Linked DNA regions of Homo sapiens: all the other regions are linked to region 1. The links come from fine-mapping of genetic effects on gene expression. A gene starts in region 1. Each other region holds a variant in brackets. All regions are shown on one strand. Distances are from middle to middle. Region 1 holds the start of PPM1M (protein phosphatase, Mg2+/Mn2+ dependent 1M). Region 2 overlaps STIMATE-MUSTN1 (STIMATE-MUSTN1 readthrough). Region 3 has its middle 30 kb from the start of SFMBT1. Region 4 holds the start of GLYCTK (glycerate kinase).

Region 1 (8,100 bases):
CTTGGACTGAGAGAGAAAATTCCTAGTCTCAGAGCAAATCCCAGGCCACCAGCCACAGCTACCAGCAAGAGGCAAAGGAGCTCCCACCTCTGCAGGGGACAATGAAGAGGGATTCTTGGGGTTGAGGAGGACCAGGCACTGACCTGCCTACCCTGTCCATGGATCAGTGGGTACTTGAGATCCGATTTCTCCACACGTTTGTAGCTCCTACCAGGAGCAGAGCCAGCATCAACCCAAGCCCTGTGCCCCATCTCATCTTTCCCCAACTCAGGGCCCAGCTGTCACACCCTCACAGTGCCACCCTGCCAAGGTGGAGGGGGGCCCCAGGCCATACGGCTGGGCCTGGATCCCAGGGGTCTCCCTTCCTACCTGTCCCCCATCCCCACTCACCAGCCACTCATGTGGTGATCCCTGAACAAAACCTTCTGTCCCAAGTCATCCCCCTTCAGCCGCCGAGGGAACTCCAGTCGGGTGAACTCACCAGCCAGAAGCTCAGGATAGACAAAGGCCTGGGGTGGGGAGGCTGCGCTCAGGTCATACTCCTTCTTATGGCCCTGGACCCAGGAGTTGGAGCTTCACAGCCTCCATGCTGCCAAGGGCACCTACCAGCTGCTGGATCCGCTGCCGCTCAGTCTCTGGGGTGAACTCGAAGCTCAGTGGCCGTATCTCATCTCTCCGCACCAAGATGGCCCTGGATTGAGGAGAGAAGGGAGAGGTCTAGGAGGAGGCCTCCACCCTCACCCATGGCCACCCTCCTACCAGTCCCTCCTCCAACCACCAGGATCCAGCTCTGTCCATGATGATCCCTTAAAGCCCTCCATGACTACCTAAGACCTGCAAGGGTGAAGGCTTAGCCCTTTAGCGGGGCCTTTGAGGTCCCTGCCCTCCCCGGCAGCCACTGTCCACACTCGACACATAACAAGTACACACACAATTCAGCCAGTCAATCCTTCCTACTATCCCTCCACTTCCAGCCACCTTTGCTTGTCCCCATTGCTGCTTATGCCCTCCCCATCCCACCCTTGCCCACCCTCCAAGGGGTGACTCACCTGCTATCCCCAGCATTGGCCATGTACAGCTTTCCCTGCAGGGACACAGCCACCAGGGCTGTGCAGCCGCCCATCTGGCCTGAGGCCTCCAGCTCCCGCCCGATCACCTCATCCTGGGGAAAACCGAGGCCACCTTAGCTGCTGCCTGTTCTGCCACCATACTACTTTGTCTCTCAATCCCCACCCTACCCTACAGTTCACTTCTACCAGCAGGCCTGACAGTCCCAGCCCAAAGTCCAGCCATACCTCCAAGATCCCTGCAGTCAGGAGATCTAGACAAGGGAAGTGCTACTCAAAATAGGAAGAGAAACCAGCCCCTGCACCAAGGACCAATAGGGTATTCAATTAGATGATGCAGGTAAAAGCAGTTAGCACACAGTAGGTGCTGGATAAATGAGAGGGGTTATGCTGATAGTGATGGCTGTTAGTAACAATCCAACCAACCCAATCTCATCCTCCCAATCCAAGGATCTGGTGTGATGACCATGGGTATACAGAGATGCCATTTCCTGAGATCCCCGGGGCAAAATCTCCACTTCTTCCCCAGCCAAAAGCCACACACTCACACATTCCTGAAAGGCACTCTCCAATGCCCCGATCACCAAGTCTTCTGCCCTGATGCCCTTTTCCTCCACAAACTGAGGGTCACTGGGGCAGATGCAGCGGCCATTGAGGTGCATGGGGGGCTGAGTGGCCACCAAGCCTTCCACCACGGCCTCCAGCTGCCGGCGCAAGCAGGAGTGCAGGGTGTTGGCAGCCAAGATGGCTGCTGCAGGACCGCCGTGCCCATCGAACAGTGCCCAGTAATGGCCTGTCAGGAACTGCACAGGAAGGGCTCAGTGTCAGCCTCTGCCTGACTTCCCCACTTGTCCCCTGACGCAACCTAACTAGGACCTGGGGCAGCAGGGTAAGAACCTCAGCCTGCAGGTCGTGGCCCCAGCCTGTCGGAGGGATTCCAGCCAAGAACTCAGACTGCACTCACCTCCTCTGGGCACAGGGTCAGCCACTCTTCTTCAGCCCCAAACTCACATCTCCGGATGCACAGCTTCCCACAGGCGGCTTGATCCTCATTGAATTCAGATTTCTCTGCATTGATAATCCTGAGGCCGGGAAATGGTAAGCGACCCTCCAGGGACACACCTATGTCCCCATGGGCACAGGGACCCAAGCCAGCACAGGGAGAAGACCCCTCCCTCTGGGGCAACAGCTCCCCAGTGCTGTCCCTAACACACACTTAGACAACCACGATGTAAGCTTCCTAACTTCACTGGCCTCATGGCTAAGGTAAAAGTCAGGGCCCAGCTCCTCTGGAGCCTACCTGGTGACCCAGGGCTAGACGGTAAGGGTAGGTTGCCATTCCTGCCCCTGTCCTGTCGCAGCCCAAAGCCCTGTCCCATACAGCGCAGGTCATACCCAGGGTGAGATGGTGGGGGTAGAGGGCGAGGGGAAATCTCCAAAGCCCCGAATGCTGGAACTCTACCGAGTCTCTGGGCCTCATCTTGGAAGCCCCTGGGCTGCAGGTCCTTCCCGACCTCCTGTCTTCTCTGAGGGGGAGGTCGGAATCCCAAGGAAAACGCTGGGTCGGGATGACCGGGAAGTTGTCAGGATTCGGAGGTGAGGGCAAGAAGGGGCTGTCCACAGGTGGGTGGGGACTGTCACTCAGCTCCTCCCGCTTTCTAGGCGGGCGCAGGACCCGAAGCGGGTTCAGGCCCGGGCCTGAGCTGGGGGTCGGGGAGGGGCACTCACTCGGCGTAGCCTGCATTCCAGGGTAGCGTGCGTCCTCGTGCGGGGCTGCGCACGGGCCGGGAGTCTGGGCGGCGCGAGGCGTCGGCCGCCCCGGGGCTGGAGCTGGAGCCGCGAAGGAAGCGGGGCCGTCGGTAGGGCACGGGGCTGGCATGCGGCCCAGGCGGCCGCGGCGCGGGGAGCGGCTCCCCAGGCAGGAAGCGGCGCCGGAACCAGCCGGCGGACATGGCGCGGCGGCAGGGGGCTGCCCGCGGAGCGCGGGGCGCTAGGGCTGGGCCGCCCGCGGGAGGAAGAAGCGGGCCGCGGGCGGAGCCGAGGGAGGGGTGCGCCGGCGGGAGGCGGGGCCGGGGGCGCGCAGACGGGAGGCGTCGCCCCCCAGCCCCGACCTCCGCCCGGGAGTGCGTGCGCGGCTGGTTCGCTGACTCCAGGGGTCAACGCTCGCGACCGCCTGAAGAAGCCCACGCCGGCATCAGCCCCATTTGACAAGCAGGAAAACCGAGGCCTAGAGAGGCGAAGTCGCCTGCCCAGCGTCCCACAGTAGCCAGGGAGGACTGTTCACCCACGCTTGCGGGGCACTGGTGGTTGAGAGGAAAAGTCCCCCACACTCCGCGGGGCCAGCGTCGCGCAGATCCTCGGACCTCCTCCTGCTGGGTGGGGACCTGACGCAAGGGGAAGATGGGGACAAAATGAGCTGGGAGGTGTCAGACCCCCACATTGAGTAAATGCCACCGAGCACAGGTTCCTTCAGGCGGCCTCCAATCCTCTCCACCCCGGCCTGCCACCCTCCACCCCAGACGGGCTTAGTGGGCACCTTGGCTTTCCCCGTCCTGAGAGGCTGCTGCCACCCTCGAGGACAGTCTTCCAAATGGCTGTCCCTGCATTCAAGATGTCTTCGCGGAATAGACAGCAGGATCCTTACTGGACTGTGAGTGAGTGACGGACAAGAGAAATCTGTGTGAGTGTAAAGGGGAATCCGTGGTCCCCCAAAGGCTCCAGCTGGTCCGAGTTCAGACCTGGGACGGAGGGAAGTGAAAGACGAGGAACCATCTTGCGGTCTCTCAACCACTGGCTAGCTGTCACCAGGCGGTCAGCCGCAGTGTCCCCTTCACATCTGCGAGTTAACAAAGCACTTTGTCACCCATTTGTCACTCAAGTCCAACTCCCTGTGCAAAAGTGTTACTTTGGCCGGAGGCAGTGGCTCACGCCTGTAATCCCAGTGCTTTGGGAGGCCGAGGCGGGCGGATCACTTGAGGTCAGGAGTTCGAGACCAGCCTGGCCAACATGGTGAAACCCCGTCTGTACTAAAAATTAGCCAAGCGTGGTGGTGTGCGCCTGTAATCCCAGTTACTCAGAAGGCTGGGGCACAAGAATCGGTTGAACCCAGGAGGCAGAAGTTGCAGTGAGCCGAGATGGAGCCACTGCACTCCAGCCAGGGCAACAGAGCGAGACTCAGTCTCAAAAAAAAGAGTGTTACATCATATGGACGATTCTGAGGCCCATGGAGGGGAAGTCTTGGACACCCAGGGCTGTACTATTTCCATTATGACAATGCAGCTGACTCAATCCTCGCCCCCAGGGCACTTCTCTTCCCCTTTCCTCCTCCAGGAAGCCAGGGCTTGCCAATTAAAAGCGGCTAAGGCTCCACAGCCCAGTGCCTGCATATGAGCTGTATGAGGAGTCCACCTTCACCTCCACTCCCTAGCCCAGGTAGACGCTCAGTAAGCCCTACTTCCTCCCAGCAGCTAGTCCTGCCCCAGTGGGAGTTCCTCGGGCCCAAGAAGGAAGGTTCTTAGGGCAGGGACCTGTGCCCAACACCCACTCCCTCCGATGACTCAGTCCCAGACCAGCCTGGGGGCTGATTGACTGAACCCACAGTGTCTGCTGGGGCCACACTGGGCACAGGAACGCAGTGCTAATGGAGACAAGCCAGGCCTCTGCCCACCAAGCCCCCTGCAGTGATGGTAGCAGTTCTGGTGGATGCTGCTTCATCCAGCTGGCAAGAGGATAGGGGCGATGTCAGAGAAAGTTTCCCAAAGGACCTCTGAGCTGTGAATTGTCACTGTGACAGAACAGAAAGGTACCAGGGTGGGGCAGGCCCAATTCAGTCTATGGGGCCACTTCCTCACCCTCACCAGTTGATGCCTCAGAGGATTTTAAAGTCTAAAATTGGACAAAACAAAGTGCATACACTCTATTCCCCAACCCACCCCTGGGTGGGGGAAAGCCTTGTCCTGAAGTATTTTCACAGAAGCTCTGGGCAACCAAATGTCATAGGCAGTCTGTTGCACAGCTTAGCCATTGTCTATTTTCAGAGCCATGTGGAACCACATGGCAATCCCATCCTCTCTGTTCCAAGGTGGCCTGAGTGTTCCTTCAGTGCTACCAGGCTCTTCTGGCTTCCTGGGCTCCTAAGCGCCTCACTCTTGCCTGGATCTTAAGCCTATGTCTCTTGGTTTACTCCCTCATTTTGCTGAAGTGCATCCTTCAACAACTTTCCAACAAAGGGTGACTGGGAGGTACTTTCCTGAGAGATGTTATTTATCTATCTTTTTCTGTGAATGGTCTGTTTGTATCCTTTGCCACACTTTCTACTGGGCCATTTGTCTTTTTCTTTTTCTTTTTTTTTTTTTTGATACAGAGTTTCGCTCTTGTTGCCCAGGCTGGAGTGCAATGGTGTGATCTCGGCTCCCCATGACCTCTGCCTCCTGGGCTTAAGTGATTCTCCTGCCTCAGCCTCCTGAGTAGCTGAGATTACAGGCATGTGCCACCACGCCTGGCTACCATTGGTCTTTTTCTTATTGACTTATGAGAGCTCTTTATATATTAGAGAAATCAGCTCTTTATTTTGAAATGAGTTACAAGTATGCTGTTTGTAACAAGTTACAGTTTGTTATTTGTGTTTTGGCTGTGATGGTGGCTTTTTCCATATAGACTTTATTTTTTATGCAAATGGATTATTGATCTTTTCATAAAGGAAAATAAAAATTTCAGGACCCCCAAATTTGTTATGCTAAAGGGAGAGTTAAGCTTGGAGACTGAGCCACACAACACTGGCATTCCTTTTTTTTTTTTTTTTTTTTTTTTTTTTTTTGAGATGGAGTCTTGCTCTGTCACCCAGGCTAGAGTGCACTGGCACAATCCCGGCTCACTGCAACCTCCGCCTCCCGAGTTCAAGCAATTCTCCTGCCTCAGCCTCCCCAGTAGCTGGGATTACAGGCACCCGCCACCATGCCCAGCTAATTTTTGTATTTTTAGTAGAGATGGGGTTTCGCCATATTGATCAGGCTGGTCTCGAACTCCAGACCTCAGGTGATCCACCCGCCTCGGCCTCCCAAAGTGCTGGGATTACAGGCGTGCTGGGATTACAGGCGTGCTAGGATTACAGGCGTGCTGGGATTACAGGCGTGCTAGGATTACAGGCATGAGCCACCACACCCAGCCTTTTTTTTTTTTTTTTAATTTTATTCCGGCAACACTTCATTCTATGCTGCAGAACTAATGTTCTCCAAAACTGTCATTCTTTTCCCAAATGGATACCTGTTACCTTGCAACCTTGTGTCAAAATATTATGCATTAACCAGATCCCCACAAAAAGGCAAAAAGCCTCATGAATCTCCAGGTGACTGCAATCACAAATTGCTCAGCAGTAAATTCTTTGCCAGTCCCTAAAACTTTCAGGATGTATATCCTCCTATAAAACAAGGACATGTCAACTGCAACTTTAGGTCTGCAACCTAAACCTAACTCCTAAAACCAAAGTCTGTTAAATTTCACACTGACAATGTCAATTACAAGTTTATCTGCCCAGGTGCAGAACAAGGATAAGATGAGATCAATCATTCCTCCACCTAACCTGAGACCTCTGCATAATTGGCTCTTCTGTTACTCCCTGTTCTTCCAGTGTTCACCCTATCTTCCATATAGCTTAGATTTACGGGACACTAATTAAGAGTCTCACAAAAACATAACCATTTGCCTCACTGTCTTCTCCCCTTTAAAGAAATGTACAAATATTGAGCCTCCTGAAAACTTCTTGGGAGAGCACAGGCCACAGACGTTTCTTTGACTTGTGTTGCTTTCCTGGGCACGCTCCAACTCTGGCTCAGTAAACCTCGATTGATTGAAGCTCTTGCCTCAGTCTCTTATTTGGGTTAAGATTTTCTTTTTTTTTTTCTATAGACTAATTTTGGAAGTGAAAGATTTTCTTTGATGGTTTCTGTGTTTGGTGACACAGAAGTTTCCTCCACTCCAGATTCTACAAACTCCTCCCTTTGTTTCTTCAGTATTTTTAAATTTTTTAAGAGAGCCTCACTCTGTCACCCAAACTGGAATGCAGTGGTGTGATCACGGCTCACTGCAGCCCTTAACTCCTGGGCTCAGGTGATCCTCCTGCCTTAGCCTCCCAAGTAGCTGGGACTACAAACATGTGTGACTGTGCCTGGCTAATACATATCTATCTATTAATCTATCTATCTATCTATAGATATATATATGTAGAGATGGGGTCTTGCCATCTTTACCAGGCTGGTCTTGAATTCCTGGCCTCAAGCAGTCCTCCTGTCTCAGCCAAGTAGCTGGAACTACAGGTGTACATCACCATGCCTGGCTAATTTTAAAATAATTTTTTTTTTTTTTTTGTAGAGATGGAGTCTCACCATGTTGTTGTCCAGGCTGGTCTCAAACTCCTAGGCTCAAGAGATCTTCCCACCCTGGCCTCCCAAAGTGTTAGGATTACAGGCATGAGCCACTGTACCTGGCCCCCAACTTCTCGAATAAAATGAAACTATGATTCTTGGCCTCACTCACTACCATGTGACATTGATCAAATCACTTCACCTCTCCAAACCTCAGAGTCTTTATCTGTAAGATGGAAAAAGTAACACCTACTTCAGGGGCTGTCATGAGGATTAAATAAATGTGCCCAGCAGGTAGTAAGTATACAACACAAAGCATCTAATGGTTCATTCATACATTTGCTTATTTTGCAATTATTGGCCACCTGCCAATGTTGGGCACTGTTCTAGGCACAGGGGATACAGCAAGGGCAAACACCTAACTACTGGTGGAGGGAAGACGATAAACAAATACGTAAAGATTTGTGCCAGGTAGTGATAAAAGCAAAGAATGACCCATGGAGAGGGTCAGCTGGGGAGACCACGCAGTACCCTACTTTGTCACAGTTCATCCAGTGAGGGACATTTTTACAGGGCACATGACCTTAATCTTTTTCATTAATCTTGGTTAATTCATTTCCAGGAGGTCAAGTCTCTTGTGGTTCTGTGGAATCACCAGATGCTCCTGTGGGTGT
Region 2 (8,100 bases), 620 kb before region 1:
TTCGCGTGGAGTCACTAGTGCCCTCACCCTGGGCAGAGGATGGCAGGCCTAGAACTTGAGAGTCTTGATGGCTTCGTGTTTCTCTCCTGTGGGCCCAGGTTGTCCCTGTTGCCACTCTCGTGTGCTCACCTCCCAGCACCAGCATTCAGCCTTTGGGCTGACAGAGGCCGACCAGCCTGGGGTAGCTTGATATCTCTTGGGTCCGTTCCCACGTGGGAAGCGCAGGCCAGATTTGGAACCACAACCGTGGTGATACAACCACCAGTGATCGTGGTTGTTTTCAGATGGTGACATTTTAGATGATTTTTCTCTTTCCCTGGTTTCCAAACTTACTGCAATGATTTATAATTTAAAAGAAAAAAAGAGGCCAGGTGTGGTGGCCCACACCTGTAATCCCAGCACTTTGGGAGGCCAAGGCAGGTGGATCACCTGAGGTCAGGAGTTCAGGACCAGCCTGGCCAACATGGTGAAACCCCGTCTCTACAAAAATTAACCGGGCATGATGTAATCCCAGCTACTCCGGAGGCTGAAGCCAGATGTGTGCTTTCTTGTTTCCTGCAGGTGGACTTCGTGCTTAAAGATTTACTCTTCCTCCAGCAGTTCCTCTAGCTGCTGCTTCTTGCTAGCATGTGCATGGTGCTTGCCAAGTACAAAGCATGGCTGTAATACTCTTAAGTATATTGTTTTATTAATACTCCTGTGAGCTGTATACTATAATTTCTTCCATCTTATAGAGTCCAGTTGAAGCCCAGAGATGTTAAGCAAGTCTCCCTGGTCCCACAGTCGGCTCTAAAGCCAGGTTTTGAACCCAGAGCTCATACTCGCAAACACTAAGCTCTGCCACCTTTGACTTGTGATGGGACACCAGTATGTTCTGCTCTGTTTGTTCAGTTTAGTAGTTAAGTGCCTACTTCATTCCAGGTACTGGCCTGGGTGCCAAGGGTATAAATATGAATAAGATAAGGTCTCTGTATCCCTCCTTAACTAATTGTCTAGTGGGAGACAGGCAGATGCTTAGTATTGCATATGAAGTGTTGTCCAAAGATGTGCATAAGAGACTTTGGGGACCCAGGAGAAGGGAGGGCACTTGGTTCAATTGCAGGGAGCTAAGCAAGATGTCTTAGAGCAGTGGGAACAATCTGGAAGAATGCCTAAGAACTATCCAAGAGAAGAAATGGAGGGCCCCTCCCACGCCAAGGGGACAGTATGAGTGACAGCACTAAGGTGGGAGATGCCAGGCCATCAGGGCCCTTTTTTGCCAACTTACAAAGCCTGTATTATGTCCTCTGATGTTGGGGATGTGGGGCTGGCACTGGAGGGTTTTAGGCCAGGAGCAGCGTGCTCAGTTCACTCTGGTCCAGTGTCGGGGTGGATTCAGGCGAGAGGACTGGAGTCAGGAGGACTTGCTAAGGCAAAGGGATGGCCTTGATTCTGGGAGTTTTTTGAGCACCAGACCAGCGCCTTTTCTCCCAACTTGAGGGATCAGTTGGATGATTTTCTCACTGGATGATTATAGTCAGTTTTGTATTCCCCTCAAGATGGCAGGGGAAATGTGGGCTTTGGATTCAGGTAGACTTAGATGCAACTCTTGGTGGTGCCATTTTGGCAATGGCAAACCCCATGACCTTATCTGTAAAATAGAGATGATACTTTGCCGGGTTGTCAGAAAGATTAGAAGCAATGATATAACGTTCCTGAGGTGTGGCCAGGTGCATTGGCTCACACCTGTAATCTCAGCACTTTGGGAGGCCAAGGCAGGCGGATCACTTATGGTCAGGAATTCGAGACCATCCTAGACAACACGGTAAAACCTTGTCTACCAAAAATACAGAATTAGCCAGGCATGGTGGCGCGTGCCTGTAATCCCAGCTACTCAGGAGGCTGAGGCAGGAGAATCACGTGAACCCAGGAGGCGGAGGTTTCAGTGAGCTGAGATCTCGCCACTGCACTCCAGCCTGAGCGACAAGAGCAAAACACTGTCTCAAAAAATAAAATAATAAAATAATCAAGTTCCTGACGTGAGTACTCAATAGGTGGTGACAGCATGACAGCCATAACGGCAGCTGCTCTTCTCCCCACAGTGAACCCATGAAGTGGACAACTGAAGAAACAGACTCTGAAAAGTTAAGTGACTGGCTTAAAATCATAAAATTTTGGATAAAGCTGGAACTAGATTTCAAGCTGTTCCTGACTTGACTGCCCTTAGTTCCCTGCCATAAGAATCACCTGGACCTCCATTTCTCCTTAAAAAGTGGCCTGACCTGGATTTAGAGTTCTGCTAGGGTAGAACTGAGTCACATGGCCACACCAGCAGCAGGGGAGGCTGGGAAATATAGTCTTTAAGTTGCCTGACCAAGGGGCTTCTCTTAGCAAGGAAGAATGAGAGAATGGATTTGGGAAGCAGCCAGCAGGCTACCTCAGTGACTTCTGGGGACTTTTTCCCTGGGCGTCTCTGGGTTTTTAGCCCTACTACAGGGCATTGAGGAGGTTTGAGTGGGGCCTGGTTGTTGGGATGTTCGTTTATCACTTAGGGAAGGTGCAGAAACACTTCTGGGTTTTTCCTTGACTGCTGGTTCCCTCCAGCAGATAGATTTGCTCACCCCTCAGGACAGTTTCTGCCATTTGGAGCACTGGAGACCTGGTCAAGAATTGTGGAGAGGGGGCCTGGGCTCCATAGGACCAGCCAGGCATGGCTTGAGGTCACTGGCCTGACCAGTGCTGGTTAGAGAAAGGCTTGGCCCGGGTGACTTGGCTTTCTTTGCGGCTCCTCTACTAACTGCTGGGGTGATTCTGGACAAGTCAATTCCCCTACCATTTTCCACACCCTACCCTGGAGGGGGTTGGACACTCAAGGACCCTTCTGGCTCTGAATGGGAGCCACACTGCGTAGTTTATGAGCTGATATTCAGCTGGAGGTGGCGCTGCTTGCCACTTGCCCAGGGGAAGAGTCCGCTGCCTCAGCACTCGCCTGTGTTGCAGGAGGCACTGGCCCGTGAGACAGCTTGAGAAATGAGGCCATCAGGGAGTGGTCCTGTTCAGCAACATGCCATGGGGCAGAGGGCTCCAAAACTATGGGTGTGTTTCTGCCTCCGGGTCATTGGAAGGTGGGAGTATTTTTCCCCAGGGATGAACAAGAAAGCATACAGGCTTATGGCGTATGAGCTCATGGCTTCCAGAGCACCCCATTCCTGAGAGTTGGGAAACCTGCTCATGCACTGAGGTCCAACGTCTCACACAAGGACCAGCGGTTTTGTGTCCCAGGACTTCCTGCTGTCTGTGAGGGAGAGTGATCCAAAGCATCTTACATTTCTACTTTTGGAAAGTCATAAGCTAAAATGGCCACTGGGAGGCCTGTGATGATCCTCCTGCTTTAAGGTTACACTGTAGATGTAACAATACAAATATTTAACTGAATTGCCTCGGTGGATTTTCATGGCAAAGAGCAGCTTTGTGCCAAGAGCCCTGCCAGGTTCATGAGCCTCTTCCTGTTCTGTATCCTCAGCAGGGGGTGATTTTCCACCCATGTTTTGCTGGTCTGAAAAATGCCATCTGGTAAGAGGGATGCAAGGGACTGTACCACCTGGTAGCCAGGGCTGCAGCCGGGAGACCCCGGCTTCCCTGTCTTTATGCAGCCACACGCCTTTCCCTGCACCTGACAGGAGCCCACCACATTCCCCCTATCCCTGCATCTCTTGGGCTGCACCTCCCTTAAATTGAGTGTTTAATCTCAAGACAGTTGTGCTTTTTGACTCAGTTTCTAAATAGGGCTGCAGCTGCTACCTGGAAATTATATCCCTTCCAACGCCTGTGTTTTTTGACTTGTTACTCTACCACTCTGTGACATCAAGTGTAAAATTCCAACTTCCTTCTGCTAGTCAGTGGGTCCACGTGGAGCGCCAGCCCAGATCGGGCTCTGAGGAGGACAGTCGAGCTGGGTGCCTGGTCCCCGCCCTCCACATGCCAAGTGAGAGTGGCGTGTGGAAAACCAAACAACATAGCGTTAAGTGAGCAGTCGGTGACCTGGGT[G/A]CTGTGTGAAGTCGACAGGTAGAGTTGAGTCATCCATAATTGCTGTCCTATTGTGTGGCACCAGTAGCACTGCCCAAACTTCTGGGAGAGTGAGCACCACCACACCCTGGTATCCTCAGGGGAGGGCGTGAGCATGGGGAAAAGGAGGGGCTCTGGGCTCATGTCCGAGAGGAGAGAGCAGGTGAGATGGGGTGGGACTGGGAGCCCTGCCAGGCCCCTCAAGGCGGTAGACGGTGGCAAGCCCCGCAGGTGCCCTGGCACCCAAGTGGCCTGATGGGTGCACGCCGCAGCCGTGCTGAGACAGCCTCTTCAGCGATCAAATTGTCAGAGTGAGAAGGTTTGCTAGTACACCATGCTGGCAAGAATGTGGGAATGGGTACTCGTGCTATTAGTGGGAGTGTGAGTTGGCACAGCCTCTGTGGAGAGCGGCGCCACAGAATAAGCCGCACATAGCTTTTGATGTAGCAAGTGTGCCTCTAGGAATCTGCCCCTCAGATATGGGCCCACACAGGCAGAGGTAGCACATGGCAGGGACATTCGCGGCAGCAGCTCATAGAGTAAATGAGATGGCACAGCCACACTGTGGGATGCCATGTAGCCTCTAATGAAAGAAAATGGAGCCATGTGTACAGTAGGTGAGAGCAGGAAGGTTAGACAACGTGTAAAGCATGTGACGGTTTGTGTCCCCCCACCGCCCCTACACACACACACACAGATCTGTGCATCTGTGTGGTTGTCCAGCATGTCTTTGAAAGGATATGTAAGGTCTTGGGGACAGTAGTTGGCCCTGAGAAGGGAAACAGAGGGACTGGGATGTCAGCCAGAAGGGAGACTTTTCACTGAATATATTTTGTACTGATAATGGTTTGGCTCTGTGTCCCCACCCAAATCTCACCTTGAATTGTACTCCCATAATTCCCACGTTGGGGTGGGGGGACCTGATAGGAGACAATTTGAATCATGGGGGCAGTTTCCCCCACATTGTTCTTGTGGTAGTGAATAAGTCTCATGAGATCTGATGGGTTTATCAGGGGTTTCTGCTTTTGCATTTTCCTCATGTTTTCTTGCCGCCGCCATATAAAAAGTGCCTTTTGCCTCCCACCATGATTCTGAGGCCTCCCCAGCCATGTGGAACTATAAGTCCAATTAAATCTTTTTCTTCCCAGTCTTGGATGCATCTTTATCATACTGTAAATTGGTACCAGTAGAGTGGGGCATTGCTGAAAAGATACCCAAAAATGTGGAAGCAACTTTGAAACTGGGTATCAGGCAGAAGTTGGAACAGTTTGGAGGGTGCAGAAGAAAGGAAAATGTGGGAAAGTTTGGAACTCTCTAGAGACTTGTTGAATGGCAGTCGGGCACCGTGGCTCACGCTTGTAATCCCAGCACTTTGGGAGGCCAAGGCGGGTGGATCACAAGGTCAGGAGTTCAAGACCAGCCTGGCCAAGATAGTGAAACCCCATCTCTACTAAAAATACAAAAATTAGCTGGGCATGGTGGCAGGCGCCTGTAGTCCCAGCTACTCAGGAGGCTGAGGCAAGAGAATTGCTTGAACCCGGGAGGCAGAGGTTGCAGTGAGCCGAGATCACGCCACTACACTCCAGCCTAGGTGACAGAGCAAGACTCCATCTCAAAAAAAAAAAAGAAAAGAGAGAGACTTGTTGAGTGCCTTTGCCCAAAATGCTGATAGTGATGTAGACAAGGTCCAGGCTGAGGTGGTCTCAGATGGAGATGAGGAACTTGTTGGGAACTGGAGCAAAGGTGATTCTTGTTATGTTTTAGCAAAGAGACTGGTGGCACTTTGCCCCTGCCCTAGAGATCTGTGGAACTTTGAACTTGAGAGACATGATTTAGGGTATCTGGAGGAAGAAATTTCTAAGCAGCAAGGCATTCAAGAGGTGACTTGGGTGCTGTTAAAGGCATTCAGTCTTGTAAGGGAAGCAGAGCATAATCAAAGTTTGGAAAATTTGCAGCCTGACAGTGTGATAGAAAAGAAAAACCCATTTTCTGAGAAATAAAAGCTGGCTGCAGAAATTTGCATAAGTAACAAGGAGCCAAATTTAATCCCCAAGATCATGGGGAAAATGTCTCCAGGGCATGTCAGAGGTCTTCACAGCAGCACCTCCCATCACAGGCCTAGGAGAAAATGGTTTCGTGGGTCAGGTCCCTGTGCTATATGCAGCCTAGGAACTTGGTGCCGTGCATCCCAGCCGCTCCAGCCATGGCTGAAAGGGGTCAATGTAGAGCTCAGGCTGTGGCTTCAGAGGGTGCAGGCTCCAAACTGTGGCAGCTTCCACATAATGTTGAGCCTGCGAGTGCACAGAAGTCAAGAATTGGAGTTTGGGAACCTCCGCCTAGATTTCAGAACATGTATGGAAATATCTGGATGCCCAGGCAGAAGTTTGCTGCAGGGGTGGGGCTCTCATGGAGAATCTCTGCTAGGGCAATGTGGAAGGGAGATGTGAGGTCGGAGCCCCCACACGGAGTCCCCACTGGGGTACCGCCTAGTGGAGCTGTGAGAAGAGGGCCACTGTCCTCTAGACCCCAGAATGGTAGATCCACCAACAGCTTGCGCTGTTAGCCTGGAAAACCTGCAGACACTCAACGCCAGCGCATCAAAGCAGCCGGGAGGGAGGCTGTACCCTGCAAAGCCACAGGGGTGGAGCTGCCCAAGACTGTGGGAACCTACCTCTTGAATCAGCATGACCTGGATGTGAGACCTAGAATCAAAGGAGATCATTTTGGAGCTTTAAAATTTGACTGCCCAGCTGGATTTCGGACTTGCATGGGCCCTGTAACCACTTTGTTTTGGCCAATTTCTCCCATTTGGAGTGGCTGTATTTACCCAATACCTGTACTCCTGTTGTATCTAGGAAGTAACTAGCTTGCTTTTGATTTTACAGGCTCATAGGTGGAAGCAACTTGCCTTGTCTCAGATGAGACTTTGGACTGTCGACTTTTAGGTTAATGTTGAAATGAGTTAAGACTTTTGGGGGACTGTTAAGATGGCATAATTGATTTTGAAATGTGAGGACATGAGATTTGAAGGGCCAGTGGCAGAATGATGTGGTTTGGCTCTGTGTCCCCACCCAAATCTCACCTTGAATTGTACTCCCATAATTCCCACATGTTGCGGGAGGGACCTGGTGGGAGATAATTTGAATCATGGGGGTGGTTTCCCCCATACTGTTCCTGTGGTAGTGAATAAGTCTCACAAGATCTGATGATTTTATCAGAGGTTTCCATTTTTTCATCTTCCTCATTTTCTCTTGCCACCACCATGTAAGAAGTGCCTTTTGCCTCCCGCCATGATTCTGAGGCCTCCCCAGCCATGTGGAACTGTAAGTCCAATTAAACCTCTTTTTCTTCCCAGTCTCGGGTATGTCTTTATCAGCAGCGGACTAATACATGTACTCTGAATTTCATTGAAAGAAAAAGAGAAAAGAATCTTTATTAGTTTGCTAGAGATGCCATAACAAATAATCACAAACTTCTTGGCCTAAAACAGCAGAAATGTTTTCTCACTGTTCTGAGGCCCCAAGTCCAGAGTCAAGGTGTGGGCAGCGGCCACACTCCCTCCAGCAGCTCTGGGAGAGGACCCTTTTTTGCCTCTTTCAGCTTCTGGTGGCTCCAGGATTCCTTGGCATGTGGCTGCATAACTCCATTCTCTGCTTCCATCTTCACAGGTCCTTCTTCTCTTCCCCTTCTGTCTCTATTCCTCCATCTCTCCTCCATCTCTCATAAGGATACTTGTAATGGGATTTAGAGCCCACCAGATTAGTCCAGAATGATCTCATCTCATGATCTTTAATTACATCTGCCAAGACCTTTTCTCCAAATAAGGCTGCATTTGCAGGTATCAGGGGTTGTGGGACATACCACGTAGGACACCACCATTCAGCCATTATCATTGCCAACTAGATTTTGAGGGGAAAACTCACCTATATGCTTCTTACACTTAAATATAAAATTGAAAGAAGAGAGATTGAAAAAAATACCATACAACACTACTAAAATAATATACTCTTTGAATTTTATATACTCTCCATATATTCACCTTTTCCAAAAGATGTA
Region 3 (8,100 bases), 830 kb before region 1:
CAGCTGCTGTGGCAGTTTCTGAAGAAAGTGGAAAGGCATGAATGGGCCCTGCCATGTGTTGGGTGGCCACAGGCATGAGCTCTCCTGGTCTCGGCTTTCCAAGGCCCGGGCCACGGTGGCCCACGAGGACACCCCTGCACCCCCACATGGCCTCACCCACCAATTGCCAATGTCCTCACCTTGAACCCACTCATCACAGGCTGATCCAGAAACTTGCTGAGTTTTGTTTTGTTGCAAACACTGATTTGCTTTGTTGTTTTTTTTACTTCACTGGGATGTAGGATGCCAGGTTAAGATGGACTGGTTTCTCCTGCCAGAAGCAGCTTTGAATTTAGGATGCCCAGAGGGTGCTGTCTTTTTCTTTTGACAGAGTCGTGGTCTGTTGCCCAGGCTGGTGTGCAGTAGTGCGATCTAGGCTCACTGCAACCTCTGCGATTCTCCTGCCTCAGCCTCTCAAGTAGCTGGGATTACAGGCGCCCACCACCATGCCCAGCTAATTTTTCTATTTTTACTAGAGACAGGGTTTTGCCCTGTTGGCCAGACTGGTCTCGAACTCCTGACCTCAGGTGATCCACTCGTCTCAGCCTCCCAAAGTGCTGGGATTACACATGTGAGCCACTGTGCCCAGCCTAGGGTGCTGTCCTGAACACTATTGATAAGGTGGAGTTTTCCTGGGAAGGGAAGAGTGTTCTGCCTACAGACTTGTGGACATCAGGGAGACACCAGATGTGTCTGGGCCCAGCGCTGATCCTTGGGGAAGGTGTGAGGCCATGGACATTTGGGGTGTGGGTCATATCTGAGTAGTGGGGATCCATCAGGCCTTCCTCTTCCTCCTTCTCATTGTCAAAGAGCCGTGACCTGAGTGTACCTGGTTCTGATCCGACAGCCCACTGCTAAAGGCCTCCCTCATTTCTATCAGCGTCTGTGGGACATTCCCTTCAACTGTGCAGGAGTCCTGGTTGCCTTTGAAGCTTGGAAATGATGTTTTACCACATCCCCACTGCCCACTGGGCCAGAGGACCTGCTGTTGATCCAGACAATCAACAGAGCTGGAGAGCCCGGAACTGTATTCCGATCCCAGCCCTGCCTTTTACTCCTTGTGAGATCTAGCAGGTAGCTTTGCCTTTTCTCCATCTGCAGAAGGTTCTAATAATCCCTGCTCACTCTTGCTCCAGGGCCATTGTGGGGCCAAGGAAAAGTTGGGGTTCAGCAGTTCTTTGGGGTGGAATGGAGAGTTGGAGAGCCAGTGGGCCTGTGCATACCAAGGCTGGAGCCTGGGTCCTGCAGGGGAGCTAGTCCAGCACAGAGGTCACGGTGGAGATTAAAATATTCCTTTTTTTGAAACAGGATCTGGAGCTGCTGCCTGGGCTGGAGTGCAGTGATGCAATCATAGCTTACTGCAGCCTCAATCTCCAGGGCTCAAGTGATCCTCTAGCCTCAGCCTCTGGAGTAGCTGGGACCACAGGCATGAGCCACCATACCCGACTAATTTTTTAAAAATTATTAGTAGAGATGGGGTCTCACTATGTTGCCCAGGCTAGTCTCACACTCTTGATCCTCCCACCTCGACCTCCTAAAGTACTGGGATTACAGGCGTGAGCCACTGTGCCTGGCCAAGTTTAAAATATTCTATACCATGTGTTATTTTTCCTGATAAGTGATTTTATCTCCTGATATTATGTATTTTATGTATTTCTTGCTATTTAATTACAAATTATCCTGAGGGCAACCAGTGCCCTGCAGAAAGTCACAGAAACACTGGGTCCATGTCCTGCCCGAGGCCAGTCCTGACTTTGCCCGTGGTACGCACCTGTGCCGTGCTCACACTGTCCTGCACAGCATCCTTTTTTACTATAATATGCCATTGCAGGTTATTCCCAGCACTTTCTATGTTGTAAACTGTTAAGTGAATATCCTGACACAGAGTCCTCCAAGAGCCTGGTCTCCTTCTCCATTTTGCCTGCTGATGAACCCTGAGAGTGAACTTCACCGCCTCTCAGCCCCAGCCTCGCCCCTAAGAGAGCCTAGGATGGAAGGGAGCCTGCCCAGGTCATATTGAGTTGATGACCAGCCAGCCTGGAGCCTGAGACTCAGGACCTGTAGGTCAGTGGGCCAAACCGTTCAGATCGCCTGGGTTCCACATCTGAAAAGGGCTTTGCATGATGCCAGCCTCCCAGTCAATGGTCTGTATTAATTGTGACATCGTGGCAACCTGTCACTTGGTCATTCAGCTGACAGTCTTTCCTCCTGCAGAGGCCAAGAAAACCATGGAGGAGCAGTGGACCTTGGTGTCCCTGCTGAGCACAAGCCAGCAACAAGGACCTGTCCCCCCAGGCTCCACGGCATCCTCAGCCACAGACAAGCTCAGCCGCTGGGAGTGTGCACCTGTCACAAGTAATTGCTTCCCAAGAAGCAATTCCTCTGGGTGTCAGTAAAGTCACTGATGCCCCAGCCCTCCCCTCAGAGAATCTGATTAACCAGCCTAGCTGGATGGGAAGCTAGGGAACAAAAGCCACCCAGTAAACAGAAGCGGAACAGCCGAGGAAGGGGCTCTGCCAACTGCTCTGGCTCCTTCTGTGGGCGACAGGGCCTCTGTGGGCTAGTGGCTTTGGAAGGGGTTTGCTCAAGGGCCTTGTTTCCCTGCCCACAGGCATGGGGTGCAGCCCCTTATGCTGGAGGCTCATCTTTGTAGCATGCATTGGTGCTTGGGGAAGGTCTTTGAGCTGCCTGGTCCAAGGGTGGATTCTAAGGTTTTGACAAGATCACTCCACGCTCATGCCTGCTGTGGGCTCTGGCACAGACAGACCCTAGTGTAGGTTCCAGCTCTGCTGTGTCCTTTACACCATGATCTTGGGCAGTTTACTAAACCTCTCAAGCCTCAGTGTTTAAGAGGTTTTATATTAATCCTACCTGCTTTTATATTTAATTTCTCTTTTGATCAAAACAATACACGTATGGTACATAGTTTTAAAGGTTGAACAATACTGCAAGGCTGGAAATACTAATTCCCCTCTTCTTGACCCATAGTTTTAAGGTTGAGCAATACTGCAAGGCTGGAAATACTGATTCCCCTCTTCTTGACCCATTGCTTTCAGTTCTTTTGACTCTTTCACTCTTTTTTTTTTTTTTTGAGATGAGGTCTCCCTCTGTTGCCCAGGCTGAGCTGGAGAGCAGTGGCACAATCACAGCTCACTGCAGCCTCAAACTCCTGGGGTCAAGCAATCCTCCCACTTCAGCCTCCCGAGTCGCTGGGACTACAAGTGTGTGCTACCATGCCTAATTTTAAAATGATTTGTAGAGATGGGGTCACACTATGTTGCCCAGGCTGGTCTTGAACTCCTGGCCTCAAGCGATCCTCCTGCCTTGGCCCAAATTGTTGGGATTACAAGCATGAGCCACTGCACCCTGCCTCTTTCACCTTTAGAACATTGATTTCCTACTATGGAAAATGAGCTGATAGCCACCTCTCCATACATTTCCTCCCCATCCTTCAAATGCTATGATTTGGCGTAAGTTGATATTCAGTGTTTACATGTTTAACGCTACGCAAACATTGTTTTCTGCTAAACCAAGTAGTATTCTATTTCCTTTCTGCTATGATTCTTTGTTTTTCCTCAAGCTATAATTATCTGTCTTTTTTATTTGCTTTTTTATATTTGTACTTTATATTCTTCCCTACAAAATCATACAAATCTGACCAAATACACCCAGCAGGTGTGCTTTCCCTGGAGACATTGCTCCAGGAACCCCTCACTACTTATTCCACTCTTACCAACCTATCCGTTTGCCCCTGCCTCCCTTCCCCAGAGGGAAGACATTGAGGCTCAGAGAGGTAGTAAGATCCGGGTGGAAATGCAGGCCTAGATAAGGAGGTACAGTTATGCTCAAGGGCCAACCGCCTGCCCAGGATGCTGCAGCCCAGTGGGGCGGCAGCCACACAAATGGGACCACTTTGTGGGTTTAACATCTGCAGTGTGGGGCAGGGGCCTCAGGCCCTGAGTGTAGAGGACAGAGGCAGGTCTCCCTGTCCATCCTGGGTGACCATTCCTGGTAAGATGCCCCATGCTGATTTCCATCCCCCACCCAGGCAGATCGGAGAAAGAGCCAGCCCCACTTTT[C/A]TCTGATCACCCCATGTTAACTTCCCCTTAAACTTGCTAAACCAGCCCTACCCAACTGCCAAGCTGAGGTTGCCTCCCAGGGCCACCAGCACCCTGCTCATCACAGATGGGGCCACTTTTACTACTTCCCTGTGTCTCGTCTCCCCCATCTCGGGGCTGAGCTCTGAGCCTGCTCCCAGCCAGCTTTGTGCTGCAGGTGACTCTTCATTGCTGGTCAGAGGAGGCTAAGGTCAGCCCTAGGGAATGCATGAAGGTTAAGATGATGCTGGGGGCCCCTGGCCAGCAACTCCCAGTCTTGGTGGCCCAAGTCCTTAAGGGCAGCACACATTCCTGAAGGGGACAGAGAGAGCCTCCTGAGTCAAGAGCTCTTACCCAGACACCACATGCCTCACGATGGAGAGGACTATGCATTGTCGGAGGCTCCTGGTGACTGCCATCCAGCTCACAGGGCCCACTCACCACAGAGGCTGCCCATGAGAATGTCATCCATGTGTTCCTGCATGCCAGAGGCTGTACCTCAAGGAGGCTGTGCCATTGGGCCAGGACTACCCCAGGCATAGGGAGAGGGTACAGGCCGCATATCCTCTCCCTCAGCCATCAAGAGACAAGGGATGGGTGTCAGAGGTGTCTGGGAGATGAAAGATGCATGGAGCACTCCAAATGGCCGCATGCTTTCTAAACACACAACTCACCAGGATTTCATCTGCAACTCAGATTCAATCGGCTAAGTGGGGAAGAAGAAAGTATGTGGTTGTCATGGCAACACCAAATTGCCCAGGACCAGGTTGGTCTCTAAGCAGGGGAAGGGAAGGGAGTGGAGCTGAGCCTCTGTCTCTGTGGTGGGGATGTTCTGGAGAACGGGGCCCAAGGGTCAGGCCCGACATACACCTGTGGGGCAAGGGGCCTTGTTCTCACTACCCCTGCTCAGGGCTGAGGGCCTGAGCCATGCAGTATTATATAAAGGGTTGACTCGGGGCCCTCACTCTGGGGCTGGGGCCCAGACTACTCCAGCATGCAAGTTCCAGAGCCAGCCTCTTGCTAAGGGCCAGTCCCTGCTTCTCCCCACGGGCTAGACCCACCCCAGAGCAGCTCAGATTTGGTGCCTGCTTCTCTTCTTGCCCCCTAGTCCTAGCTGTTCCTGGCAGAGCTTCTGTCTTGAGCTTGGCCATGGATGTGGACACAGCCTGGCACATACCCTGAGTGCGGTCTAAAGGATCAAGGGACACAAAGCCTCACCCAGAGAGTGCCAAGCAAAGCTGATACTTCTATTCATACGCATGCAGTGCTCAGCCTGGCCTCCTTCTTCCCACCAAGAATGAAGTGGAGCCAGCAGAGGGGTTGCCCTGCAATGTGGTCTCTGCCAACCTGGGCCCAGGCCTAGCTGGATAGGTGGTAGGAGAGAGGGCTGCTCAAGTAGGAAGGAGGTGAGCATCAGGACCCTCCCCTCCCCTGGACCTGCCTTAGCCCTGTTTTGATTCTGACCATCCAGTGCTCTGGGGACCCTGGAAAAGGTCCTGGCTCCAAGGTCCACCTGACCAGCCAAGCCTGGCACATCCATCTCTGTGGTCCCAGGATCTGGCCACAGGAGGGCTCCTGGACACGTAATACATGAATAGATGGAGTGACATAAAGAATTAATCAGTGGGTGACTTAGGCAGTGAGAACTAGGAGCAGAAGAAATGAAAGAGACCAGGTTGGGAGGGGGGATGCTGGTAGGGCCAGGTTTAGGGGAGCCTTAAATGCCAGGCTGAGAGGGGGTGTTTGTCAGGCTCCCCCACACCCAGCTTCTGCCCTGGCCCTGGGACAATTTCCGTCTTCCAGAGGGGCCAGTAGGGATCCTGGCAGATGTGGCCCTGATCACCTGATCCCCTCTCAGAGAGACAGAGACCCCAGGGCCCATCCCCCAGAGCCTGGCTCACCTGGGCCCTCGCAGGGCCTGCCTCACCGGGGCCCCGCAGACCTAACTGCTTCTGCTTCATGGTCTGTGGGTTTTCCCAGTCGTCCAATTAGTGCTAATTGGAAGCAGGAAGTGTGTGCATGTGTGGGGTGGGCCTGGAACTCCGATGTCCTTGTCAGAACTTCGAAGCCCTGTGCTTCCTGGGACAGGCTCTTCCCTAGAGCTTTGTGGTCTCCCGCAGGGCTGGGTAGGGTTGTTGGGAGCTCCCCGAGCATTGGGTATACTGGCTCTGTGCACAACGGGGCCTCTGCTCTCCAGAGGGCTCAGGCTCTCACCGGCCACCTCTTACCCCAGGTGCCAGTTGCCCCCAGGGCAAGGCAAGCTCATCCTTTTCACTGCCAAATCCTCTTCGCCCGGCACAGAGCTGCGGCTCTTCACAGTTTCACTCTAACAACGAAGGGAATGATGGGCTCAGGGCCTGGAAGAGAGGCGCAGAGGGGGCCTCCTGAACCCCTCACTGACCCTTGGTCCAGCCTCAGCCCGTGGCTCCATAAAGGCAAGGAAAGGCCTGCTTTATCTGACTGGCCACACACTTGTGCTTCCCTTGGGGGACAAAGGGTGCAGAGGCGCTTCCACAGAGGCGGGACTTCCGCTTACTTTCCCTCCTCCCCGTTTCCCCGCCCCCTCCACTTGCGGCACAGGTGGGGGTGTCCAGAGGCAAAGCCCCTTTTGTGTCAAGCCCCAGCCCAGGTTCTCTCCTCACCCACAGATGCTGGTGCGCAGTCTGACGGCAGAGGCTGTAACGGGGGAAGCATGGGATGTGGGCACATGGGGGAAGGCCCCGGAACCCAGCCTGGGCAGAGGCCGGTGCCCCACCAGGCTCTCTCTCTGCAGTGTTATGTCAATCATTGCCCACAGGTGCCCTCGACCTGGACACCGTCAGGCCTCCTTCGCGGTGGGCTGAAACCCTGTGGCACAGCCCAGGACCACCCAGCCCCACGGGCTGGGGGCTCACATCTGGAAGCAGGGCCCCCCAGGACTCAAAGGTGCTCGGAGATGAAGATTGCTGGGTGTCAGCTCATGGGGCCAGCCTCGGCTTCACCCCCAGGAAATGCCTGCTTGTTGCTGTGCGGCAGGCACTAGAGCAGGCAGAGAGGGCGGTGGGCTCCTCTGAGGTCGCGGGCGGAGCCCTGTGAGGAGAGACCTGGCCGCCGGCAGCCACTAGAGGGCAGGACCCTCCTGTGTGTTTCCTCCAAAGGGTTGTTGAGCAGATGAGCGGGACTGACAGGAAACAATGGAGCAGCCGCCCCAGGGTGCAGTCACCACAAGCCTGCTAGAAGGGCTCAGCGGAGGCTGCGATGCGTCCGAAAGTCCACTGGACCCTAGACCTTAAATGGCCTCCCTGAGCCTTTAGGCTTTTACTTCCTGGGAGCCCAGCCCTGAGCCAACAGAGACAGTGCCTGGCTCCTACATTGGCAGAGAGTGACAAGTCAGTGTCCCCTTCTTACAACATCAGTGGTAGAGGAGCAATTAGGAGAGCAGGTCCTCCAGCTTCTTCCAGGTGCAGTGTGGAAACAGAGGCAGAGAAGAACTCACCTGACCGCACCTACGAGGTGGGTAGGGACAGATACTTCTGAGAGTGAACCATCAGCCAAGCACGCCCAGCAGCCCTGGGGGGTCAGTGCATGTTGTCGGGTGCTACTTTTGCAGTTGGGGAAACTGAGGGTCAAGAGAGGCTGTCATTTGACTGAAGTCCTACAGCAAGGGTGGACCAGGGTTCCCGCCCGGGCAGGATGATGCTGAGCCTGCATGCAGGCTCCCACGCAGCCTTATCACAGCCTCATGTAGAGACGACCTCCTGTGACCTCGCTGACATGAGTGTGAGTGTGTGGGGACCCTGGCTGCCGCAGCAGGAATGAGGCAGCCTCTCTGCATCCTGACACTCCCAGGCAGAGGCCTGTCCTTCATCTGGACCTACCAACAGTGACGCCAGGAGCAGCTGCCTCTAGGACACGTGTTCCCCTGGGCCAGAGGAACTATGTGAGGAACCCATGGTGCATGCCATGACAACCCTCCTTTAGGGCC
Region 4 (8,100 bases), 46 kb before region 1:
CAATACTCATGCTCCCAAGAGCAAGGACTGAGGCAGGAACAGGCTACATGTAGACGCTGCCAGAGGAGCACCACGGCACAGGATCATGCGAGGATCACCATAACCCCAGAGACTGTGACCCTAGTCAGCAGGAACTCCATGCCAGCACAGAAGGAAAGGAAGCGGTGCCTGCGCATCCCAGTGGGGTGCAAGCTCCCCTTTTCCTAAACCTCCCTGGTCCCCAGAGCCCGCTTACCACGTTTACCTCCCTCCCAATCTCCAGCCTGCCCTGTGTGAGCCAGGCCCCCAGGTCATGAACTGTCTGCAAGCTAGGCTGCCCAGAGCCCAGGTGGGGAAGGGAAACCCTTCCCAGGGGAAAGTCCTGCCAGCCCTGGCCCAGGGCCCCTCCACACCCTCAGGGAGGAGGGGAGGGTTGGGGTGGAAGAAGTGCCTGCAAGAGCAGCCCCAGGCCTCGCTGTTCTCTATGGCTTTTTATTCCTATGTGATTCTACTGCTCACTCATATAGGGATTGGAGCCGTGGCGCACGGCGGGGACAGCCAGCGGAGGGTTCTGACACTGAGCAAGGGGGCTCAAAAGGAGGCAGGACAGTGGCACCTCCCTCTCTCAACCCAGGCTGCTGGCCAGGCCAACACAGCCGTTCCTCTATTCCCACTTGCCTCTTCTCCCGCCAGTGGTCACAGGAAGAGGTGTGGGTCACTGGACCTCATCACTGGCTGGACCCACCATCCCAGTGCTGGGACCCCCACTGAAGGGCTGACTTCAGGGTCTGGACTTGGTCCCCAGAGGAGTGGCTGAAGGAACTAGGGATGTTCAGCCTAGGACAAGGGCTGTCACAAGGAAACAGCACTGGGGGGTGGGACAAACTTCAGCTCAACCAGAAGTGCAGTATGTGGCTAAGGGCTGTCCAAAGACAGAAAGGACATCCATCCAACGAGGCCTACAAGCTGAGGCTGGAGAAGCCATGGTGACAGTGCCATGGTGGAGTCATGGTTGGGTGGGTGGGTGGCTGGTCACCCCAGACTGCAGTCTTTAGGCCTGTCCTCCCTGGGGTCTCTGCTCACGCACATCAAAGCTGTCAGGAGCCAAGCTCAACCCTCACACACTCCAGAGGGATGGGCACAGGCTCCCGTTATGCGAGGCACATCCTGCACGTACCCAGCCCAGTAGAGGGGTGTTAAGAGTCCTGCCAGGCCCTGGTACTGTGGCTGCAGCCGTACCACGCTCCCCTCCCAGCGGCTCCCCCGTGAGGCCTCACTCTGAGGGAAGGCGCACTGAGAACCCATGGCATGGTCCTATTTATTTTCAGACATTCTCGCTTCACAGAAAGAAACAGGGTGAGGGGCTCAAGAGAGAGGCTGCCCAAGGGAGAAGCACGGGAACGCTGAACTGGCCGAGGGGCTTGTCCTCATCCTCAGGGGTAGGGGGAAGCCCCCATCTGCCAGTCTGGCTGGAAGGGAATAGATATAGAGCAGAGGCCCTGAGTGGAAGGTGACAGTTAACCAAACAGCCAAGGCCAAGGAGAGGAGGGGCCCTAAGGCTTAGAGAGGCCCTGAGGACCAACCTTGCTCTGCCATCTGACCTTGCCCTTGTAGGCCTCCTCTGAACTCCCAAAATGTGACCTATGCCATCACCGAGGCCGCAGGAACAAGAGGTGGGTGTCCATGACATTGGTACCTGTCATCCCTGTGTGCAGCAGGTGTGCCCCACCCTGGAGGCAGCAGAAGAAGGTATGTGAGTCATTGTGGGCTAGGAAGGTGGCTATGTCCAGGCCCTCAGCTGCAGCCTGGCTGGCAAGCTCAGGTGTGACCCAGGCCCCAGCAGCCTCTGTGGGCCCATCCTGCCCATCGGTGCCACCGCTCAAAAACAGCACATCTATCGGCCCCAGCGGCCACCTTCTCAACTCTGCTCCAACACGCAGGGCCAGTTCCTGGTTCCGGCCACCCCTGCCCGAGCCCTGCAGCTGTACTGTGGGCTCGCCACCAGCCAGCAGGCAGACTGGGCCCCTTCCCCATGCCATGGTCTCCAGAGCCTCCTCCAGCTGCAGGTCTGGGATCTGAAGCTCAGCTGCCAGCTCATGGAGCTGTGCATCTTCCTCCACAGAAGCCCCAGCCATGGATGGGGTGAGGCGGGTTCTAGCCACATGGGCCAGCAGCCCGTAGAACTGGGCCATACTTTTTACATCACCTTGCATGGCTGCACTCAGCACCACAGCCTGGTAGCCCAGTGCCTCGGCCTGCCGCTGGGCCTCAGCTAGCGCCAGCACATTAGAGCCAATGATCACATTCAGGACATGGCCACAGGTGTGTGGCCCATGGGGGTCAGAGTCGGCCCGAGACAGCACAGTCTTCACAGAACGTGGCAGGGCTGCACGGAGGCCGTAGCGATTGAGGATATGCAGGCAATCTTGCACATTGTGGGAACTGGCCACGGTGGGGCCACTGGCAATCACCTCCACAGGGTCCCCCACCACATCTGACAGGATGAGGCTCACCACCTGGGGAAGGGCCACCAGACAAGGCTCAGGCCCACTTCCTCCTCCCCTCAGAGCCCATAAGGACAAACTGCCCCTAGGGTATCCACACACCCTCCCCCAACTCAGTGCATTTCCTTACCCATGGTTAACTCCTCTCACGTGGGCTTGCAAAACACCTGGTCATGCAGGCACCTCCTCCCCGTCTCTGGCACCCCTCCCATGATGTCACCCAGCCGGCCCCATGGTCTTTCACACCATGCCCCTGCCAATCTATATGCTGTTCTAGCTTTCACATCCCTGGCACATGTGGGCCTGGCTCCACCAACCCAAGGTTGCCTGGGGAAGAAGGGACTCATACCTGGGCAGGGTAGGCGGCCTGAGCCAGCCCCCCACCCTTGAGCTGGGACAGGGCCTTCCGAATGGTGTTCAACTCCTGGATGGTGGCTCCACGGGCTGCCAGCAGTCTAGTGAGTGTCTGCTTCTCCTCCAGTGTGACAGGTGGGATGGGGGCAGGCAGCAGAGCTGAACCCCCACCTCTCAAGACAATGAGGGTATCAGGTAGAGGGGCTATCCCAACCCAGGGAACCAGGCAAGCAGGGGTGACAAGCCCACATTAGAAAAAGGGGGCTGGAAAGGTGGGGTTAGGGTGCCCCCCTGTGGATATGCAATATGTGTACAGTCACCACATCCTGGCCACCTGAGGTTGCCCCTGCCTTGGGGTACCCCAGGTCCCAGTAGGCACCGGAAGAACTAACTACTCCTTAAGAGACTAGAACAGGAGGCAGGGCAGGGGGCACACAATGGAAGATCAAGGAGAGGACTCCATGAGGTCTGAGGGCCTAGCCCCAGGTGACATTAGTACAGACAGCAGCAATAGCAGTGACATTTTCCAAGGACTCTACGGATGTGTCAGGCCCTGCATTATGTGCTCCCCATGCACCCTCTCACTGTCACCGAAAAGGTCAGCTCAGGGGGAGGACTCCACAGCTCAGGGGAGGCCAGACGACTAGCCCAAGGCAACCCAGGAGTCACCATCCAGGCTCCTCACCACCTCCCTTGCTCCTAACTTTACCCTGTGACCCCGGGGGCTCAGACCTGATCTCTCGAAGACCTGAGAGATCAGGTGGTGCACCCCCCACCAACAGTCTTGGGCCAATGTGGTACCACACCTGAGATCAGCACGAGCAGCAGGTCATCAGCTGTGAGTCCCTCAGCCAGTTGCTGGATGGCCAGTGCAGCCCGCAGCGCATCGCGGTCCGGGAGGTTGTCCTCCGCACCCTCGAATACCTGGACACGGCTATGTGGCTTCAGCAGCATCTCCCTGGGGAGGGAAAGGTCAGCACGCAAGAGATGGGGTGGACTCCTCTCCTCCCACCTGATCTCTCAACTTTACAGGTGATGGGGGCATGAACGAAGATGCCCACTGACATGCATCCTGGGGCCAGGCCAGATCCAGGAGAAATGGGAAG[C/T]GGGTGGGGAGGGGAGGCCCGATTCAGCCTGTGTCTGGGCCCAGGTTTCCCTCCAGATAGATAGAGGGAGGCAGGCCCCCATGGCTCCTTACTGCTTGCCGGCACGCTCCATGGCAGCACGGATCCCCTTGGGAACGCTGATCACGCCCTGCACAAGATGCTGGCCCAGTAGTTCCTCAGCTGCAGCTGCCATACCCAGCACAGCCTTGCCAAAGCCCACCAGGTAGAGGTTTTGCCTCAGCTGAAAGTTCCGGTCCCGCACCTTCAGCTGTCTGCCACCAGGGTCCAAGGATAGTGCCCGGTGCAGCATGGGGCCCGGCAGCACTGCACCTACAGCACTCTCAAACAGCTGCCTGGCCTGCTCTGCCAAGGCCATGCTGCTGGCCAGACGGGCCACTGAGCCCCGCCAGAGGAGTGGATGCAAGGGGGCTCGGGCCAAGCGGGGCAGGACCTGCAGGGCTGCAGCCATGCCCCACTGCTCTCAGCACTGCCTGGCACCCATGGCTGCCTAGAGGGAAAAAGCACAACTGAGGCCCTTGCAAGGCAAAAGACAGGAGGTCCCCCACGGCCGCCCCTCTGAGGGCTCAGGGCCAGTGGACCCCACAGCTGCTGCTACAAGAAGGAGCCATCTGATAGCCCCAGGAGACTTCCTGAAGCCTGCAGCTGCAGGATCTTACTCGTCCTTGGAGACCAGCCCTGCCACCCAGCCACGTCCTCCTCTTCTGCAGACCACATGCCGGCCCTCTGGATACTCTGCCTCAAGTCCAAAGTTCCTATTAGCTGGGCCCTCCTCCCAGGTCACCCCTTTGGCTGGGAGTTAATCATTGACAGAGGGAGTAATTTCTACCAGTGGGCTCCCATCCCACCCCTTTTCCACCCCCTGCACTTCTGCGCTGTTACCCTGGGGCAACGCCCCTTTCTGGCACTCCTTCCTTGCCTCTTTACCACCTCTGCTGCCAGGAAGCTGTTGATTGTCCCACCAACTGACCCTGAGCCCATTGACCTCCAGTCTTCTCTATTTCATTATCTCATGAGACTGGGATTAGGAGCCTGGGAAGTCAGGGTCTATAGGAGGCTGCAGGTTTATCAGGTCAAACCCAGAACACATCCTCAGGGCAAGCAATCTGAGGAATCTCAGTATGCAGGACCAGTTCAGCAAGAGGTTTAGGTTCAAATCAGGAGTGAGGGCAAAGTCTGGCTCATGGTGGAACCTTAGAAAAGTCCCCAGGCACCATGTGAGGCCATGTGCCATGAAGCCCAATTGCAGGACAGAAAAGGATGCCCTTCTACCCACACAGTTGGCCAGACCCAACCCTGCCAAGAACACGCCTTCTGGTTCCAAGATAACAAAAACAAGTCCTAGGTCACACCACCCACAGTGGTGAGAGCCCAAGGGCTGAAGTAGGCAAAGGCCAGGCTCCCATAACTGAGCCCATAGCCATTTTCCCCACTGGGCAGAGTAAAAGCTAAAGAAGCCTTGGGGCGAAGGTCAGGAAGCTGTAGAGGGGTATAGGAACAACAAAGACCCAAACAGCTCATCTGTACTACATATGTACTATTGCATCTACTTTAATAAATGCCTACCATAAATGTTGCAAGCTGACTTCATCAGCAAGTATGGACTGAGCAGGGTAAGGAGGCTGGGAATTGAGGTTCCAGCTCTACTATAGGCTTTCTGAGTGGCTGGGACACCTCCATTTCTCTCACTGGGCCTCATCCGCAAAATGAGACATGGGGTGAGATTAACACTACGCTCTTCCCTTAACAACCTCAGGCTCTCTGATACTGTCCACTGCAACACAGATCTCAAACACCGGTTTACCCCACACCCAAATATGGTGGTTACTTCTAGACTTTGACCATTTTGCTTGCCTAGTTCTCAGCTCTCCGGTAAGAAAAGACAGCCATGCCTGACTTCTGTTGTGAAAGGGAACACAGAGGGCATCGTCATGGGGATTCCGAAAATGGGTCCAGTTTTGGCCAGGGGGACCCCTGGAGCTTGCCCATTGGACTTGGAGCTAAAAGCATCTTAGCAACTAAGACAGCCGGTCTTTATAGCCTGGATGAAATTTGTATCTATTTCCCAGATGGACAAGAGCCTAGAAGATCCCAGCCTTGCCACTGGGTATGAGCACAGGACAGGGGGACGCTCAATGCTAAGGCTGCCAGAGAAAATACAGGACTTCCGGTTAAATTTGAATTTCAAATAAACAAGTAATTTTTAAAGTATAAGTATGTGCATACAATGTTTAGGACTTAACAATTATTCGTCGTTTATCTTAACTCAAATTTAACTGGACGTGGCCCGGCGCAGTGGCTCACGCCTGTAATCCCAGCACTTTGGAAGGCTGAGGCGGGCGCATCACCTGAGGTCAGGAGTTCGAGACCAGCCTGACCAACGTGGTGAAACCCCGTCTCTTCTAAAAATACAAAAATTAGCCGGGTGTGGTGGGCGCCCGTAATCCCAGCTACTCGGGAGACTGAGGCATGAGAATCATTTGAACAGGGGAGGCGGAGGTTGCAGTGAGCCGAGATCGCGCCACTGCACTCCAGCCTGGGTGACAGAGTGAGATTCTAACTCAAAAAAAATGTAACTGGACGCTTTGCATTTTTATTTGCTAAGTCCTCCAATTCTATCCAAGACACGGTCTCTCCGAAACTCCGGGAGGCTCCAGAGCAAAACAACGGAAATAGGAAGACTACCGGTCTTGACTCCTCCCCGCCATCAAAGAAGGCTGGTACCATTTCCGGCTTTCCCTAGACAGTAGGGGGCCGGAAGTGACGTCATCCTAAGGTAGGGCCTTAGCGAGGGAAATGGCTGCCGCGTAATGCCCGGTGATGCGAGAAAGAAGGGCCTGCTGCCACCAGGACCCGTCATCGCCCAGCCCAGGGACCGCTTCTGAAGGCCATGCGAGCCCTGGCGGCGCAGACTTACCAGCCCACAGCTCCGGCCGCGGTGCCCAGCGCTGGAGAACGGAAGTACTAGGGGGTGGGCGGAGCGGAAGCCGGAAGTGTGGGTGGGTGGAGCGGCGCAGGCGGGTGCGAGCTCTGGCTGAAGCCGGTGTCCGGGAGGGGAGAGTTTAGCATATTGGCTCTTTGCTGGCCACTGACAGACCTGGAAGGAGTCACCTTCAGTCCTCATTTTTTAAATCTCTACATTGAGGGTAATAATCCCCGCCTCACCGATTGCCGATTTTTTTTTTGAGACGGGGTCTCATTCTGTCGCCCAGACTGGAGTGCAGAGTCGCGGTTTCGGCCCAATGCAACCTCCGCCTCCCGGATTCAAGCGATTCTCATGCCTCAGCCTCCCGAGTAGCTGGGATTACAGGCATGTGCCACCACTCCGGGCTAATTTTTGTATTTTTTAGTAGAGACGGGCTTTCGCCATGTTGCCCAGGCTGGTCTCGAACGCCTAACCTCAAGCGATCCACCCACCTCAGCCTCCGAAAGTGATGGGATTACAGACTTCAGCCGCCGCACCCGGCCTCTCCCTTCCTTTATCCTGTACGGTCAGTCAGCAGATGCACCCTGAGTGTCAGGCACTGACTGGGCTGAGCAAACGAACTGAGAATCACTACTTCCCCACAACTCACCCCTTCTGGAGCCAGATTAAGTAATTCCCGCTCCTCTCCATGGCTTTTATTCCACAACTTATTATTGTTCTTCCCTCTCCCACCATGGGCCACCAAATACAGCTCTGGCTTAGCAAGAGTTCCATTCTGCGATCCTCAAGCACATAAGCGGCATGTAAACGCTAATGACTCTGGGCCTACCTCGCTGTCCCTACTCTCATCCGGGGCCTACCCTGTGTTGGCTGGATGCCTTCCCACATTCATAAGATGAGTCCTGATCAGACTCCAAAAATACAAAACAGTTCACTGTTTTTACTGATGTTTTCTTAGGGAGATAGAGGAGAGAGTTGCATCACAAATCACACACTTGATTTCCTAACAATTTTATTGAAACATGTTTCTTGGCAGGGCGCAGTGTTTCACGCCTGTAATCCCAACATTGGGGAGGCCAAGGTGGGCGGATCGCTTGAGCCTAGGAATGCGAGACCAGCCTGGGAACATGGCGAAACTTATCTCTACCAAAAAAAAAAGAGCCAGGTGTGGTGGCATGCTCCTGTAGTCCCAGCTACTCAGGAGGCTGAGATG

Evidence for each region. PIP is the estimated chance that this variant, and not a neighbour inherited with it, causes the effect.
Region 2: its variant is fine-mapped to the expression of PPM1M in whole blood (INTERVAL, PIP 0.96).
Region 3: its variant is fine-mapped to the expression of PPM1M in whole blood (TOPMed, PIP above 0.99).
Region 4: its variant is fine-mapped to the expression of PPM1M in whole blood (TOPMed, PIP 0.90).

Annotation. Positions count from the first base shown.
Region 1 is chr3:52,240,744-52,248,843 of GRCh38, reverse strand. PPM1M (protein phosphatase, Mg2+/Mn2+ dependent 1M) reads right to left here and starts at 3,085. Exons shown (of 10, transcript NM_144641.4): 1 at 2,796-3,085; 2 at 2,032-2,149; 3 at 1,616-1,870; 4 at 1,050-1,162; 5 at 607-691; 6 at 391-509; 7 at 144-207. The coding sequence starts at 3,019. It overlaps TWF2-DT (TWF2 divergent transcript), which reads right to left. Exons shown (of 2, transcript NR_135307.1): 2 at 7,747-8,100. RefSeq lists silencers at 2,742-2,801, 2,842-3,211 and an enhancer at 7,484-8,012.
Region 2 is chr3:52,862,523-52,870,622 of GRCh38, reverse strand. The region is part of intron 1 of STIMATE-MUSTN1 (STIMATE-MUSTN1 readthrough); the gene reads left to right. All of the region lies in intron 1 of STIMATE (STIM activating enhancer), which reads left to right. Among named protein-coding and RNA genes, the nearest start is that of MIR8064, 20 kb to the right of the region's middle. The variant G/A (reference allele first, on the strand shown) is at 4,027.
Region 3 is chr3:53,071,982-53,080,081 of GRCh38, reverse strand. It overlaps a transcript of RFT1 not described here. Among named protein-coding and RNA genes, the nearest start is that of SFMBT1, 30 kb to the right of the region's middle. RefSeq lists enhancers at 6,920-7,039, 6,532-7,149, 7,390-7,439. The variant C/A (reference allele first, on the strand shown) is at 4,119.
Region 4 is chr3:52,286,655-52,294,754 of GRCh38, reverse strand. GLYCTK (glycerate kinase) reads right to left here and starts at 6,927. Exons shown (of 5, transcript NM_145262.4): 1 at 6,879-6,927; 2 at 4,036-4,451; 3 at 3,644-3,795; 4 at 2,833-3,008; 5 at 1-2,495. The coding sequence starts at 4,412. The coding sequence ends at 1,629. GLYCTK-AS1 (GLYCTK antisense RNA 1) reads left to right here and starts at 5,022. Exons shown (of 1, transcript NR_046719.1): 1 at 5,022-6,175. MIR135A1 (microRNA 135a-1) reads left to right here and starts at 447; the gene lies at 447-536. LOC107986086 (a long non-coding RNA gene) reads left to right here and starts at 6,735. Exons shown (of 3, transcript XR_001740699.2): 1 at 6,735-6,922. RefSeq lists enhancers at 3,856-4,356, 7,160-7,269, 6,096-7,295, 6,601-7,342. The variant C/T (reference allele first, on the strand shown) is at 3,944.